Homo sapiens: one gene and its partner. The protein of the gene in region 2 binds, or shares a complex with, the protein of the main gene of each other region. Each region holds a gene or a part of one and is shown on either strand. Other genes may lie near its edges. A codon is read from its position in the direction of its gene.

Region 1 (5,901 bases), on a different chromosome or scaffold from region 2:
ACTGCAAATCCTCATGCCCTAGAGTGTCTACATCATCCCTTTCATTTTTCCTACTGGATACTGAAGCAGGAAGCATGGGAAAGGGGGGCTCAAGGGTTTGACTGATGAAAAACCCAACCAAAACTCATCAATCTGACTTACTATGCTGTCCTTTGGACTGTTTTGTTCAGTGGCTTCTCTGATTCTGACTTCCTCTTAAATGTATTAGATCCATGTCTTCTAAGCTCAGATCTTTATTTTTTTTCATGCCACTTCAACTTCTTTATGTAATCTCAAACTCTTTCTCAGAGGTATGAAAGAAACTCCCCTCAACTCCCTTGTTTCATAGATGAGAAAACTCACGATAGAAGGAAATTGAATCGTTTGCTCAAGATTAAATACTGGCCAAGTTCAGACCAAGCACCTTGTCAACATGGGCAAAACTTCAAAATTTTCTTCAGAGTCACGCACTGAGAAACAGTTTATGGATAAAGTAAGCTTTATAAACAATTCCCCAAAGACATTGGACTGTGCCTTAAAGAGAAAAATGAGGATCAATGAGGACGGAGACTCTGCACAGGACATTGATTACGCATGCCTGAAGACTGTTATTTGAAATCCTTCTGATGTGTCACTGTTAGGACGACAGTGATCACTACATGCTAATATTTGTTAAATGCCAGGAATTCCTTCAGACACTATTAGAGAAGGGCAAGGAAGATTCTCGAGGGCTAATCAAGCTCTTAGAGAATTCAGTTAGTAGTGACCATTTGCAATACTGCAATTGCAATACTGTGCTCTCCAGTGAGCTGACAAGGCCAGCCAAGGCAAAGTGGAGAGGAAGTGGTGCTTTGTGGCAGAGGACCTAGAATCAGTACCTGGTGTCTCTACCTCCATGGGCACACGGCCAGTCCTAGGCTATCACGAAGAAGCAATGGTACTCAATGTTCCTTAAGAAACAACATCCTTAATGTGAGAAAATAAAAAGCCATTGGAAACCTCTACTTGCTCTGAGCAGGCCATTTTCTAAAAGCAACTTTGGTATATAACTTTGTATAATTAGGTATGTTTTGGGGGGTTGTCTTGCCATTACTTCCTTCAGTCCATTAATATGGATAAAGCATCTCTCACCACACCATCAGCTTAAACTGTTGAATCCTGCCTAATAGCCTGAGCCAAGTTAATGGATGAAGTCCCTGGAGAATTTTTCAGGTGAAGGAGAAGCAGGAGGCTGCTACCCAAGAGAAGACAGAGGTGTTAAAGCTGCTTTTTTGTTTTGTGTTTTTACCTCAATGCAGTATAAAATCAACATTTAAGATACAGATAAAATTCTTTATATAATTAGCTTAGACCGTAATATCCTTCTAATTGTCACTTTTCTATGAAACCGTCTTTAACCATTTATTTGCCTTTATGGTACTTAATCACGTTGGCCCACTCCTTACAAATTTCAGTAATGATTCCAAATCAGTACAGTAAGGAAAAAAATATTTATTTTCTAAAGTCATTACCTTGACAGGCAAAACAAAGCATGTTCTCAATTTCATTTAGAAATACATATTTTAAAAATACATAGACCAATATGGCCTGCCCAAACAGATATTTAACATGGTAAATATAAGGAATAAATTGTTTGAATATAAATATCTATAAAAAAATAAGTACATCAAAATTCAATCCAACCTCTTTCATTAGCCGGTTATATAAAGGAAAATAATTTTACTGCTTTAAAGCGTAACAAACACTTACTTTTCAATATATTTCATAAACAACCCTATACCATTGTGTCTCCAAAAATCAAGGACAGGGAATCTCCTGATTTAATGATCTTTTTTTTCTTATGGATCAGAGCTAGTAGATTACCATGAAAATATTATATCTACTGCTGACACATTAGACCAGACTTCTACGAGGCTAGGATTTAGTATGGGGGATGGAGGAAGGGGCAGCAGGGGTGGGAAGAGTTTGGGGAGGCAATAATTAAATGTGGGAAATACTTCTGCCAGAGTGCAATATAGGTGAGGTAGACTCATATTCATGAAACATATCCTGATTTATGGTAGTAACAGTTTCATTCAGTTTTGCATTTTACAAATTTAAACAAAAGTCTTTCTTTTTTTTTTCTTTACTTGCATGTTTGTCTTTTGAGTGTGTTTTCAATTTGTGCATTCCTTAGAAAATCTTTGTGTGGACTTTGGAGTTTCTCCCTGAAATGTGCCAGGCGCCTGAGTCAGACACAAACACTCCCTTAGGACCTTCGTCAGAAACTCCACCCCTGTGTGGAATCTCCTTCCTCTCTCTCTCTCCGGAGGATGCCACCCGAATTCGAATGTGACTGTGTGTTTCTGCTGAGAGGTCCATTGTCATCCCCAGATGAAAGAAGAGACCAAAGCAGTTACCACTGATGGAAGCCAGTGAAGATGGTTGGGGGAACTCCTTAACCTTTCTTGGAATGTTTTGAACGAGGACGCTGGTCCTTTGCCAGTCAGGAACCAGCAGAGGATGCTCCTGCTCTGATCCCAGCCAGGGTGGAGAGTGCAGAGTCGGCCACAGGGCTCTCCGTGGAGGCTATGGCTTCAGACAGGCCCCGAAGGTCTGTCACCAATGTGCTCGGTTGTGGGTCACATAACGCTCTCTGGAGGGCTTGCCTTTCAGCTTGGGATCATGAAAAGATGATTTGACGCTGTTTCTCATGGTCTCCGACCTAATAAAGCAAGATAAGAGAAAACAAATGTTATTTTAAAAAAATCACCCTTTGGCAAAAGAAACATGTAAAATTAGAATCTGGCACAAACAAAACCTGAATCTGGTTGTGAACTTTCACCACCCGCCGCAACTCTTTGATAAAACCTCAAGTGATATCTATTACCATTGTAAAAATAAAGCCTGCCCCTATGCTTAGAATGGGAGCGAGGGGTCATATGGTCAAGTCTAAGGGGAAGTGGGCAGTAAATACAGGTTTTAAATAAACTAGAGTTGTTCTGGTTTCTTCCGTAGCCCCATCCCAACCTTCATCACTATGTGACCCTGCCTTGAGGAACTCAGCATAGGTTTTGAATAGTTATGGCCATCTTAATAAATTGACGGTGACTTAGTTGAAAAGAGAGAAAAAGAAAAGAAGCATACAGTAGGCCCAGAGCAAATACTTTATGGCAATTATTTTTAAAAAGATTTTTTTTTTTTGCAGGCCTAATGTTTTACAGGAGAAATACAGAGGGAAGAACTGTAATGTTGATTTAATAGTTGGCATAATAAAAACCCATAAAAAATTCCAGGTTAGTTCAGAAACTGATCTCGTGGGGAGCATTACTGGCCTGCGACCATAAATATGGATACTCTCATAAGCAGGTGTGAAGAAACCGATAGCTGAGGCTGCCCCACAAATCAGTAGTAAATAACTCAGAAGTAGTTCATGACTGCCTGGCCTGAGCTCAGAACACTTTAATCATAGAACTTCTTGCCACTGGATTTCTAAGAGAAGTTTCCATAGACCATGATAGAAAAATGCAGAACATGTGGTAGATCAGAGAGTAGGTTTCCTCCTTTGAGCTTGTGAATTCCAAAAAGTTTAGGATTTGGAAGGGTTATCACCAAAGAGCAGCTCAGAGCAACTCTATGATGTTGCCTAATCCAGATCCCTTCTCTGTCCCAGCACATGACTGACCAGGAAAAGAGAGAGCTTTTTGGAATGACATTGGCTCTGCACCAAACACATTTCCCTATTTAAAAAAAAAAAAAAAAAAAAGACCATAAACCTGAAAAACAGCATGTTCTAAATTCTACCAACCCTATCTAATGACTTTATTTTTCCTTTGGCCATCTGAATAACTGCAACTTATTGAAGAATTTGATTATCCATGACACTTTGATTCTTTTTCTAAATGTCCGCTCCCCAAAATGATTTTCGATTTCTCAGGGAAAGTGGTAAATACATTGACTCAGAGAGGCAAAGGCTGTATATAACCCAATGACAAAGGCATCTCTGGATATATTTTGGTTGGGAAATCTACCTGTAGATGAAATGGTATGTGCTAAAAGTACAGAGGACATCGGTTTGCATTCCAGAGCTTCATGGAAATATTTAAGAGGGATTCTTTTGCTCCTTTTAATCTATAGGATGCATAGATCTCCTCTGCTACTGTTTTCTAAGTCTTTCACCTGCCCGGGTAAGAAGGGCTGGAGGAACAGGCTGCTGGCATCACTGACTGGGGCTAGTTGTTCTTGTGAACCTCTTACCTAATTTTTCTTCCTTCCCTCTTACCTGGTTTGTCTTAGGTGTTCCTCTGAACTTCTTCTGATTTTTCTTCCTCTCACTAACTGCTGATAAATACACTTTTTCCCAAGCTTGGAACAGTCTTTTCCTTTCTTATGATTATTCCAGTCTTTCTCCATAATGTCTTCAGCCCTGTTAAAATACACAAGGAAAAACATTTCAGCAATGTTATATTCAGCTTTACCCTGACTTTCAATGTCTCTGTTAGTCTCTCTAAAACAGGAAGGCAGTACCATGATAGGAAGGAGTTCAGGAGGCTGTTAAACTGATTGAAAAGCAAAGGTGTTTCTGCTCACCTGAGTTCTTTTCCTGCTTGGCAAAAATTCCAGCACTTCTTGTCTTTTTGGCTAGCACATTGGCATCTATTTTCACGGTCTGTTGCCTTTGTGGGAAGTAAATTCTCCAAGGCTCTCTTGGACCTAGGGCTTCCAAGTCCATACGGAACAACGTGCCTATTATCCAAAGAGAGAAAGAAACTATATTAGTGTAATTAATAGTCTTTAAAATGACACATGGACACACCTATTCCACTGGGCACACAAGGAGCTCATCACATAGCACTTGGGAGCATCATTTCAGAGGGTAAAGTGTAACAACAGCCAGGAACACCTGTGCATCAATGGCCCTGACTGTATGTATCCAGGCAGGAGAAAACAAGTTTTTCTAATTCAGTGGAATTCCATTTCAACTCTTCACAAAGTTCAGTTTCTTCTTGACACAAGCAACATTGCTTTTTTGTCAAAAATTAGGACATCTCTGCTTGGCATCTGCTTTATATTTTCTTCCTTTTCTAATGGTCTATTTAGTTAACTATTTGTGGGTACACAGTGGGAAGAGGTTTCAATGCAAAACCATGACTCACAGGATTTTTAAAACTTATTTTCAACTCAAACCACGGAGGATACTGCTAAAAGTGCCACCGTCACCCCACCGACCCCAGTGGTTGGGGGAGGAGGAGGCACATGTTCACACATTTCTCCTGCCAGTCGGTGGTACCATATGGTTGTGGAAGGACTCATAGCCAGAGGGCTCTCCAATAATTTCCAATGTGTCCATTTTCATTCTCATCTAAGAAATAAAGTCCTCCCTTTGGAAGTATCACCTTAGTAATTATTAGGCTCCTTGTGGTTTTTGGTGTGGTTTGATATTGTTTGGATTTTGGTCCTCCTTTGTCATAACGGTACATTGTATGCATAGTAAATGTGTGCTTGTTTATGACTGCTTCCGACAGATGATGAACTAGTGTCCAGGGCAGAAGGAGGAAATCTGCTTTTCTTCTCTGTAGGTGAAAGAGAAGCCTATGGACAGTATTTCTATTTCAGTTCTGAAATGGGCATTTCTAAAGGGAAAATATAGCAGCAAAGGAAATCCGGGCTCCAGTTCTAGCTCTGCTACAAACTCACTCCTGCACAAATGGCTTCAACACTTTGAGCCTAGGTTTTTCTGTAAGTAAAATTAAGTGATTCTAACCCTCTATATCATCACTTCTGCCTCTCAGTCTCCACCCTCCCATGAGAAGCACAGGTTGCACTAACCCACATCTGACCTCGGCAATTATTCCCGAAACCCCATCAGATGCCACTGTGAGAGTGTCCCCCTGAGGCCCTCTCACTGAAAGTTCCTCATTTGAAACGTGCAGTGGCCTCCTG
Region 2 (8,567 bases):
CTTGGGTTCACGCCATTCTCCGAGTAGCTGGGACTGCAGGTGCCCGCCACCATGCCTGGCTAATTTTTGTATTTTTAGTAGAGACAGGGTTTCACCATGTTGGCCAGGATGGTCTCGATCAGTGAGCGCTTTCTTAACAATAGAGCTTATATTTTGTCAAGACTTTGGTTCAAGTCTAAGACAAAGTAAGGTATGAATAGGTCTTATGTACTCTCTGTGGCCTGGAGCATACATTGAAACATTTCTCTCTAAAGGAGGGTTCTAAACTGGCATGTGATTTAGTCCTTTTGATTTTAACCTCTTTGTATGTGGTTGTCTAAATAGGAACTGCTTTTCTGTTATGCCGACAATCTGACTCTCTTTCTGGGTAATAAAACATGATTTTCACTTCACTGCTAAAAAGTAGTATAGCTGATCAAAGTAATATTACAACTGGAATTGGCTGTGTCTGTTGACTGTTTAATATACTCATTTTGTTGTCTTTAAAAAATACTTGAAAAATCATCTTACCTGGAAACAATTTTTAAATTTCTTGCTCACAAAATACAGAGCTATGGGGTTTATACATGAATTCATGGTTGCCAAGTTAATACCGATGTAATCCATGAGCAGTAAGAAACTAGAGCAAAAGAAAATGGTGTAGAATAATTAGAATATATTGTTTTAAAATCTGCTCACTAGCATTTCTTCCTAGAATAAGCATTTTTCTTGCCCAGAAGCCATTTCGTATGGGTGGCAGTTAGAATTTTGTAAAAAGTGCTTGTTTAAACGGCAGTTTCAGTTTTGCAGGACAGTTACAGATACATCACTAGTTGGTTAGCTCAAACCCTTATGCACAGCCTCAGGAGGGGAGGGGCAAGATAACAGATGTGGCTTGCACACATTTTGGGATCAGTTATAGGCTATGTCAGCTAAAGAAAAAAATCAACTTTGCAGTTTTAATTTTCAGGGCTAACGGGCATGTAGAGTAGCTGGTTTTGTAAAAGTATTATAAATATGAAAATCTGAGAAACTCCAATTTTCTAGCGAGTACACAGGATCATACCTAAGTAATTCACATCGGTTCTTGTCCATCTCGTTATACACAGTTTTCTTCAATATACGGCTTAAATGAAGAGGGAACCAGCAAAGAGCAAAAATTACAACCAAGCAGAAAACTGTTTTTGCCACTTCTCGACGCTAAAGGAAAGTGAGAAAAAAATAGGACAACAAATTTAGTGTTTTTATACTAGATGCAAGAACTACAGTACCAAGAAGTAGCAGACACCAGAGAAAGAATAATTCAAAGAAGAGCCAGGAGAACAGCCTGGCTTACACTGCCTCTACCTCTTCAAGATTCTAAGGTCAGTGTTCTAACGAAGGAATTGCTAATGATGCTTCTGGGCAGCTTCCAGGAAGGATGGGGGCCTCAGGTTGGTTATTAGGGCCAGGACGGAGGTTATATGCCAGGAGAGAGGTGGAAACTGGCTGGAGGTGAGCCAGCTGAGTCTGCAGCTGTGTGTGTGTAGGTGGCTGAGTCTGCCTGTGTGTGTGTGTAGTGGGGTGGAGTGTGACTGCATGGGGGAAAGGGTTAGCTAATGACTCTTAATAACAGGTAACTAATTAGCATTAATGATGGCATGGAAGGCAAGGAGACTGAACATCACATGATATTGCATGGACAAATCAACAAAGACCTGGAGAAAACAAAATAGGAGTGGGGAGTAGAAAAGGAAAAGTCATAGCACTATGTTTTTTCCTTTTCCTGATCTTGAACATAGCTATTATTGGGATTTTTTGCTCTTTAAATTCTTTTCTTAATGACATGTAGTTTCTTAATGACATATAAAAATATTATATGTTGTTTGCAAGCAGAAGGATGAGGGTAAAGGATTATCAGCAGTGATGACTAGAAAATCTGAAACATGCTGACCTTGGACGGACTTCATGGAAGGTTTGCATGCCTTTCAGTCTGCTCAGGATCAGAAAATCTATAAATTAGGAATTATCTGCAACCATTCATTGGTGTGCATTATTTGAGTATTATATTGCATGCATTTAGAAGCCTGACTAGGAACACAAAATGCAACTTGTCTGTAACTGGGATCAGTTAATGTCAAAATAAAACTGATTAAAAACAGGGTCTGGAAGGGTAATGCTGGCTCAACCTGAAACATATAACATTAAGTCCGGGAAGCCTACAATAAACTCACATGATTGGCTGAGCCATTCAAAATATTCTGGGGCAGTTTTCATAACTCGCTACTCTAGCTAAAGGAACTGGGAGTTCTTTAACCTCTCATAGTTATTGGGCTAGCTGGGATATGGCTCCGGAGTAATGACTGAGGGAAGAAATAAAATATTCAAATCTTCAGGAATGGGGGCTCTTTTTAAAAGGGTCATTTTGTGTGTCCAGAAAGACAGTGTGCCCAGAAAAATAGAAAAGCAGTGTATTAGGGGAGAGGTTACCTTTCCTGAGTGCATACTCAAAGAGGATAACGCTTTTAAAAGCAGTATTAGTACACTGCCATGATAGTCTGATATTTGCTTAACCAATATCCATTCTCCTGTCTTCCTTACCATCACTCTGGTCTTGATTTGTTAAGGCAGCTGGGGAACCTGGCCTAATTATCTACATGGCCACTTGGCAGGGTTTTGACCCGTTAGATGAAATAGAAACCATTGCATGGGTTTCCGGAAGAGCTACTGAGAAGTATAGGGACACTCTTTTGATGCACACCCATGACGGGTTGTTTTCTGTTCTTCCCCTCTTGCTGCTTGGAAATCAGATATAAAAGTAGAGCTGCTGCTACAGTCTCCTGAGACTGAAGCAAAGATCAGCAAAACAGTAGATACCTGGCCTCTAACTTGGCTTGACCACTAAATCTTGATGTCTGAACTTTTTGCTATGGGAGAAAGATAAACTCCTTCTTGGTCAACTAACAGTTATTTTGGGTTTTGTGTTCCCAGCATCCGAACACAACCCCTACTTGATAAAACTGTCATCATTATGATGAGGAGAAATTAGAGACAACCAAGCAAGAAGCAAAACTATGAGCCCCACAGAGTATTAGTCAAGATGGCAAGGTTTTGTGCTCTATGCTGTTTCTCCCGCAGTCCCATCTGCAGGACTTTCAGCCACACTTGCTCTTCTGTACTTAGGATTTGCTACAGATTTGAGTGGCACCAAAAGGAACGTTAACTGCATGAGGACAAAATCTTGGGTTCTAATCTCCATTTGGTTGAGCAAACCTCTAAATCACCTGTATAATAAAGAATATATATCCTACTGATCTCAGAGGGTGCTTGGAGGAATCAAATAAGAAAAAGACATGGAAATGGAAATGCACTTTAAAAACTTAAAAAATGCTGTGTAAACATGAAGCAGCATATGACAATTATTTCTTTCCACAATTAAATAATTAATATTATTCCAAAATTAAATAATTAACTATTTAATTATTTCCACAGCAAATACCACTCATAGCTTAAACAGGCTCAATCATGGTGCGAATGCAAAAATCCATATTTTAAAACACTGTTTTTCACAAACCCATACTAACTACCTCCATTCCAAGAATGAGAGGAAATAATTGTAAACATATTAAGCAATTGGAGTATTTGAAACTTTCATGCCTGAACAAAGTCATACTAAGGTTTCTCAATGTAATCTTCTTGCTAAATGTCAATGAAAGATAATAGCTACCATTTGTATGGCATGTTAGATTTTATAAAGTACATGCATACACATTCATCCTTTTGATCCTCATAATACTATTGATTCATATATTATGCCCAATTTACAGATGAAAAGCTGAAGCTCAGAAAAATCAGTATAGTAGTTGAAGAGTTGCTGATGAGGAACTATGCTTGCACATGGTAATTATATAGGACAGATTTACAGACTCCATCAACAACTCACATTAACTTTTGGTGTAGTTGGCCACCATTATATACTTTTCTGTTGCAACAGGGAACTTACCTGAAGTCCTAGGTTTCCTCTTAGAATTAATGTAAATTAACATTTGCTTAATACCTACTAGGAGCTGGGTACTATTAGGCACCTTATATGTCTCAGGTAATCCCCATGATGTATTATTACATACATATTATGAGAAACTAGAAGTTCAGAGAGATTAAGCAATTTGCCCAAGGTCAGAGAGCCAAGTATGAGTCTAGTTTTGCCCTTGAAAGCCCACAGCTTTATCTGTTCTAATTTCACCCAGGAGGGACCAACATTAGCCTCCTATTGACATGTTCAAATTCCTTCTAGAACTTTGGGTCCTCCAACACTTTACCTCTTCTAATGTACATGATCCCATTTCCTAGCATAAGTCTCACATTAGACATTGCTCTAGAGAGGTTCATCTCCTTTTTCCCATTCCCCAAATGCATGGTTCCTATTCCACGTTCTAACTAGACTCCTGTTCTTCCACCTGAAATGCTCTCTGTCAACTTCTTCCCCATCAAATCCCACTTATCCTCCAAGGTCTGGTTCAATCCCCCTCATCCATGAACAGCTTCCCCATGACTCTATCTCATACCCTTCCTGGCTTTCCATAGCACAGGCTACTTTTACCACACCTGTGGTTCTATATTCCAGTTGTTTTGCATGCATATTTTATTTCTACAACAAGACTGTAAATCTGCATGGGGAGAAAGTTACATGCTTTTTTGTGTCCTGGTACAGTTTCAAGCCCAATTGAATGCACGAACTCACATACACACATGCTCAGTACACTCTTGGCAAAATAGAGGGATAGTTCTTCTCTATTTGGGCCCAGCCTTCAGGACCACTTGTTTTACAAGCAGGTTTCCCATTTTACAAAAGAAATTTCTAACACTATTACTATAAAGAAAACAGTTACAGGATAGTATTTTTATTTTAGGAAATCAGGCTAATTCTACTAAAGATGGTATTTGCAGGCCTGCTGCTGTCAAGGACTAACCAGTCCTGGCCAGATTTTCATGATGTTATGGGATTTACCTGCTTAAGATGTTCACTGAGGGCAATTCTCAAGCTGCCATTCCTTCTGTTCAACATCTCACAAGTCATGAGGGTGTAGAAGATCGCAGTGCACACCAAGGGCATACAGAAATAGAACCCGAAGAGCCACCAGTCCTTTACATCTTGGTAGAACTTCAAAGTGAAAAAAAAAAAAAGAGAAAAGGAGGAGCAGAGTCATGTCAATTAACCATGCTGTGCCTCTGGTAGCTTTAAGGTCTTTAAACTTGCAGATACATCTGTAAAATCATGCTCTCTGGTTGCAGTGATGGGTTTGGGAGTGGGGCTCAAAACTCAATTCAGTTGGAAGCTTCAGAAATTATCCTGGCTTTAAACAGCACATAAAGAAACTGCACTTACAAAAATTATCTTGACAAGGATACTTGATACTTTTCATAGATTGAAGGTTTCAACTACACAACGGAAGAGCCCTAATCAATAAAAATAATGTCCTTCTAAAGCTCATAAAACATGATTTTGAGACAAAAGAATATACATGTTTATCTTTATTTCTGGATGAACCTCAAAATTTTGTTAGCGCCTGCTTTACTTTTGACTATTGTGGTGAAAGTGTATTTAACCTGAAACGGTGAAGGTTACGAATGGCTTATCTGTGTAGCTTTGGTTAATAGGGGTTAACCCTCTGCCTGGTATGCCTGCTATGTGACCTTAAAGCCAGCCGCTTTGAACTTCAATAGCTATACTCTTCTCCCTCCTTTAATACTTACCACCTGGAAACTATTGAGGCAGCATATCTCAACTGAAGCATATCTGGTATTATCTAACTGGGCAGGATTTATAAATACCGAGATTATTCGGTTTTACTTCTGCTTAAAGAAGAAAACTTAATACCCTATAAAAATGGAAAATGAAAAATGATATCTAAATTCTTCTTCCCACAAAATTAATCACCAACTTGGGACGAAATGCTTTTTCTTTCCTTATAGTGCTTCTTCAGATTGTTAATTTACTAAGGACAATGCAGTTCCCACAGTAAAAAATAATCATGTTGCTCTGTAAAAAATGGGACAGTTTCTGAATATAGAAAGAGGCTAAGAAGGCTGCATTTATAACATGGCTATTAAAATAATCTAAAAATGGTTCCTAAAGACAAAAAATTTGGGGGAGGAGTTCTTGACTATTTTTATGCCACAGACCCTTTTGGAAGTCTGGTAAAGACTATAATCCCTTCTGAGAATAATACTTTTACATGCATAAAATAAAATACATAAGATTGCAATGGAAACCAATTACATTAAAGCACAGCTATCAAAATATTAGAAATTAAATTTAGATATAGTAATATTGTGTTTATTCACAAATAACAAACCTAGTGATGGTTCTAATAACTACCGAACTGTTGAAGTGTTGAAGTTCTGAAGAGCATAAATAATATTTTGAGATTATACAAGTGTTATATCGTATGAAAATGTCTGCTATTTTTATTACTGAAAAAGTCATGATACTGGTAAACACTATGGTGATTTGTTGGGTACATTCATAATAGAAGGAAATAATAAATTCAGTTAGAAGTTAGTGAAAATAAACATGTTGTTTCTTTTCCAACCAAGTTCACAGATCCCTGAATTCTATCCTCAGGTTAAGTGCAAACTCCCAAAGGAGTTGGTTTATTCTAAACTGCTTACACAAACATTTCCCTGTTCCCAACACACTGTAGAAAGATTTCAGTCCTGAACTTAAAAAAAGTCAGAAGCACTCTCTCTCTCTTTTTTGAAGTGCAACACGAACACTCCTTTGAGCACCCATTCTCCCTTCTTTTGTATCCTCTTTTTCCGGGTGCATTTGCTGGCTGGGTATAAATGATGCAGAAACAGCTGCAGAGGGTCTAGAGGCTGACCCTTGAGAGGGCTGAATGGAGTCCCCTGCCCCCTCCATGGCAAAGGCCCACAGAGAAATGGGTAATGCATCTCTTTGGAACTGATGTCATCAACATGGGTAGAGAGGGGCCTACCATCAGTCTAGGGTAAAGTTGAAGAGCAAGAATGGAAAAAATAGGGGAAATAAATTTAGAAAAAGAGAACAGGACTTCAGACTTGGAATGAACTCTAAAAAATTATCTGTTCAACTCATACCCTTTACTGCAACCGTCTAGCCCACCCATGCCTGAAGGGTAGCTACCCTTTACTTGAACACGTCTAGATAGGAGACAGTCTTTATGAAACAGCCCATTTCATTTTGTCTGGCTGTAAGGATTAGTAAGCTCCTTCTTATAGTGAACCTCTTTTCTCTAATGTTTGCATCTGGAATATCTAGATTGCTTATTCACACAGCCCAAATTCTGACAATCTCCTACTGTCTACTTTGTTTTTCACTTTGAAGACTAACCCAGTAAGAAACTTCAATTTTAAGTTGTTAGTTTGGCAGTTTTCATGAGCACTTTTAATTTTAAAACAAGAATTTCCAAGCAGGATAACTGGTCAACTGTAAAACCACGAATTCTGTGAATTTTCCAAGTTGGGAAAGCATACCTTGAGATGTCTGTAAATAATTACATGTGGAATGTGAGCTACATGAAACTTACATCAAAGCACTAAATTATACTGATTTAAGAGAAATAGTTATCCTTTTGGTTTTCCTCCTCAGTCCACATGTAACTAGTTTTGCAAAGAAAAGATGCATTTTAAATAGGTTTCCCAAAACAGTCATGTGATTAAGCTTTTCAGAAAAACATTAATATGGTCAGGTGTACTAAAAAAACCAACAACTGAATTTGTTAAACCAAAATATTATTTTAAGAAGTTCTACAATTTTATATTATTTGTATATTAGACATAGAAACCGTACTAATATAAGTACATGTAAGTACTACTCTCTACTTTGAATTAGTAAATCCATCTTTAAAGAATGTGAGAAATGTGCTTCTCCCCAAGTGACATAAGATAAACATCAGCACGTCTTCCAGATGGAAATTGTTGTGTTGTATTCATTATTATAAAAACAAATAGCATATGTATATATATATATACACACACACACACACACACATACACACACACACACACACATCTAGTCCCTCTTAGTAAATTTGCTTTGGTATTCTTAGTGGTTTGGTGCAGAATAACAGATATGTCTACCATTGTGGTATAATACAAGAGTGAAAGCCAGCATAACTGTTCTATTCAAGAATCTAGACACAGGTTTAACATCTACTTTTCATGCAACTGAGGAATATTTGACAGAAGAAACCACACTTGACATTGTGGCGATGTCATCAAGTCTCAAGATGGTGAAGTCTAACGGAGGACCTCCTCCCTTCCCCAGTTAATTCCTTTTAAACGTTTAGTACCTCCATGAATTTTGATGTGGCATTGAGCATACAGGTTTTATGCTGTTCACCCCTATATTCAAAGGGTACCATGACGAAGCCAATCGCTTCAGGAATGGCCAGGATAAAGGACAGGATCCAGATGGAGACAATTTCAATGGCAGTTACCAAAGGAATCCCAATTCCCTGAACACGACTCCAGGAGGCAACTGCTCTGTACCTGAAAAAAAGGGTAATGGAACCAAGTTGTTAGGAAATTTTAAATGTATTTCAATTAAACAAAAATTGTAAGTGCTG

The links.
Region 1: the proteins of EDNRA (region 2) and EDN1 are in contact, whole or in part, in a cryo-EM structure (PDB 8HCQ), measured with the Homo sapiens proteins. Residues at the interface, in NP_001948.1 of Homo sapiens: Tyr68, Gln72, Thr73, Lys74, Tyr129, Asp133, Ile136, Asn137, Lys140, Leu141, Gly144, Arg145, Trp146, Gln165, Lys166, Val169, Glu220, Phe224, Val227, Phe229, Tyr231, His236, Lys237, Thr238, Cys239, Met240, Leu241, Asn242, Gln252 (codon at 5,113), Lys255 (codon at 5,104); in NP_001403492.1 of Homo sapiens: Cys53, Ser54, Leu58, Asp60, Lys61, Glu62, Cys63, Val64, Tyr65, Phe66, Cys67, His68, Leu69, Asp70, Ile71, Ile72, Trp73.

Annotation. Positions count from the first base shown.
Region 1 is NC_000006.12:12,292,744-12,298,644, reverse strand, and holds the end of EDN1 (endothelin-1 isoform 1 preproprotein), read right to left. Parts: intron 4,705-5,901; coding exon 4,549-4,704; intron 4,385-4,548; coding exon 4,241-4,384; intron 2,684-4,240; coding exon 2,578-2,683; 3' UTR 1,451-2,577; downstream 1-1,450. UniProt on the Homo sapiens protein: Endothelins are endothelium-derived vasoconstrictor peptides. Probable ligand for G-protein coupled receptors EDNRA and EDNRB which activates PTK2B, BCAR1, BCAR3 and, GTPases RAP1 and RHOA cascade in glomerular mesangial cells.
Region 2 is NC_000004.12:147,532,429-147,540,995, reverse strand, and holds part of EDNRA (endothelin-1 receptor isoform a precursor), read right to left. Parts: intron 8,491-8,567; coding exon 8,292-8,490; intron 5,120-8,291; coding exon 4,967-5,119; intron 1,344-4,966; exon of another isoform or gene 1,180-1,343; coding exon 1,046-1,179; intron 620-1,045; coding exon 511-619; intron 1-510. UniProt on the Homo sapiens protein: Receptor for endothelin-1. Mediates its action by association with G proteins that activate a phosphatidylinositol-calcium second messenger system. The rank order of binding affinities for ET-A is: ET1 > ET2 >> ET3.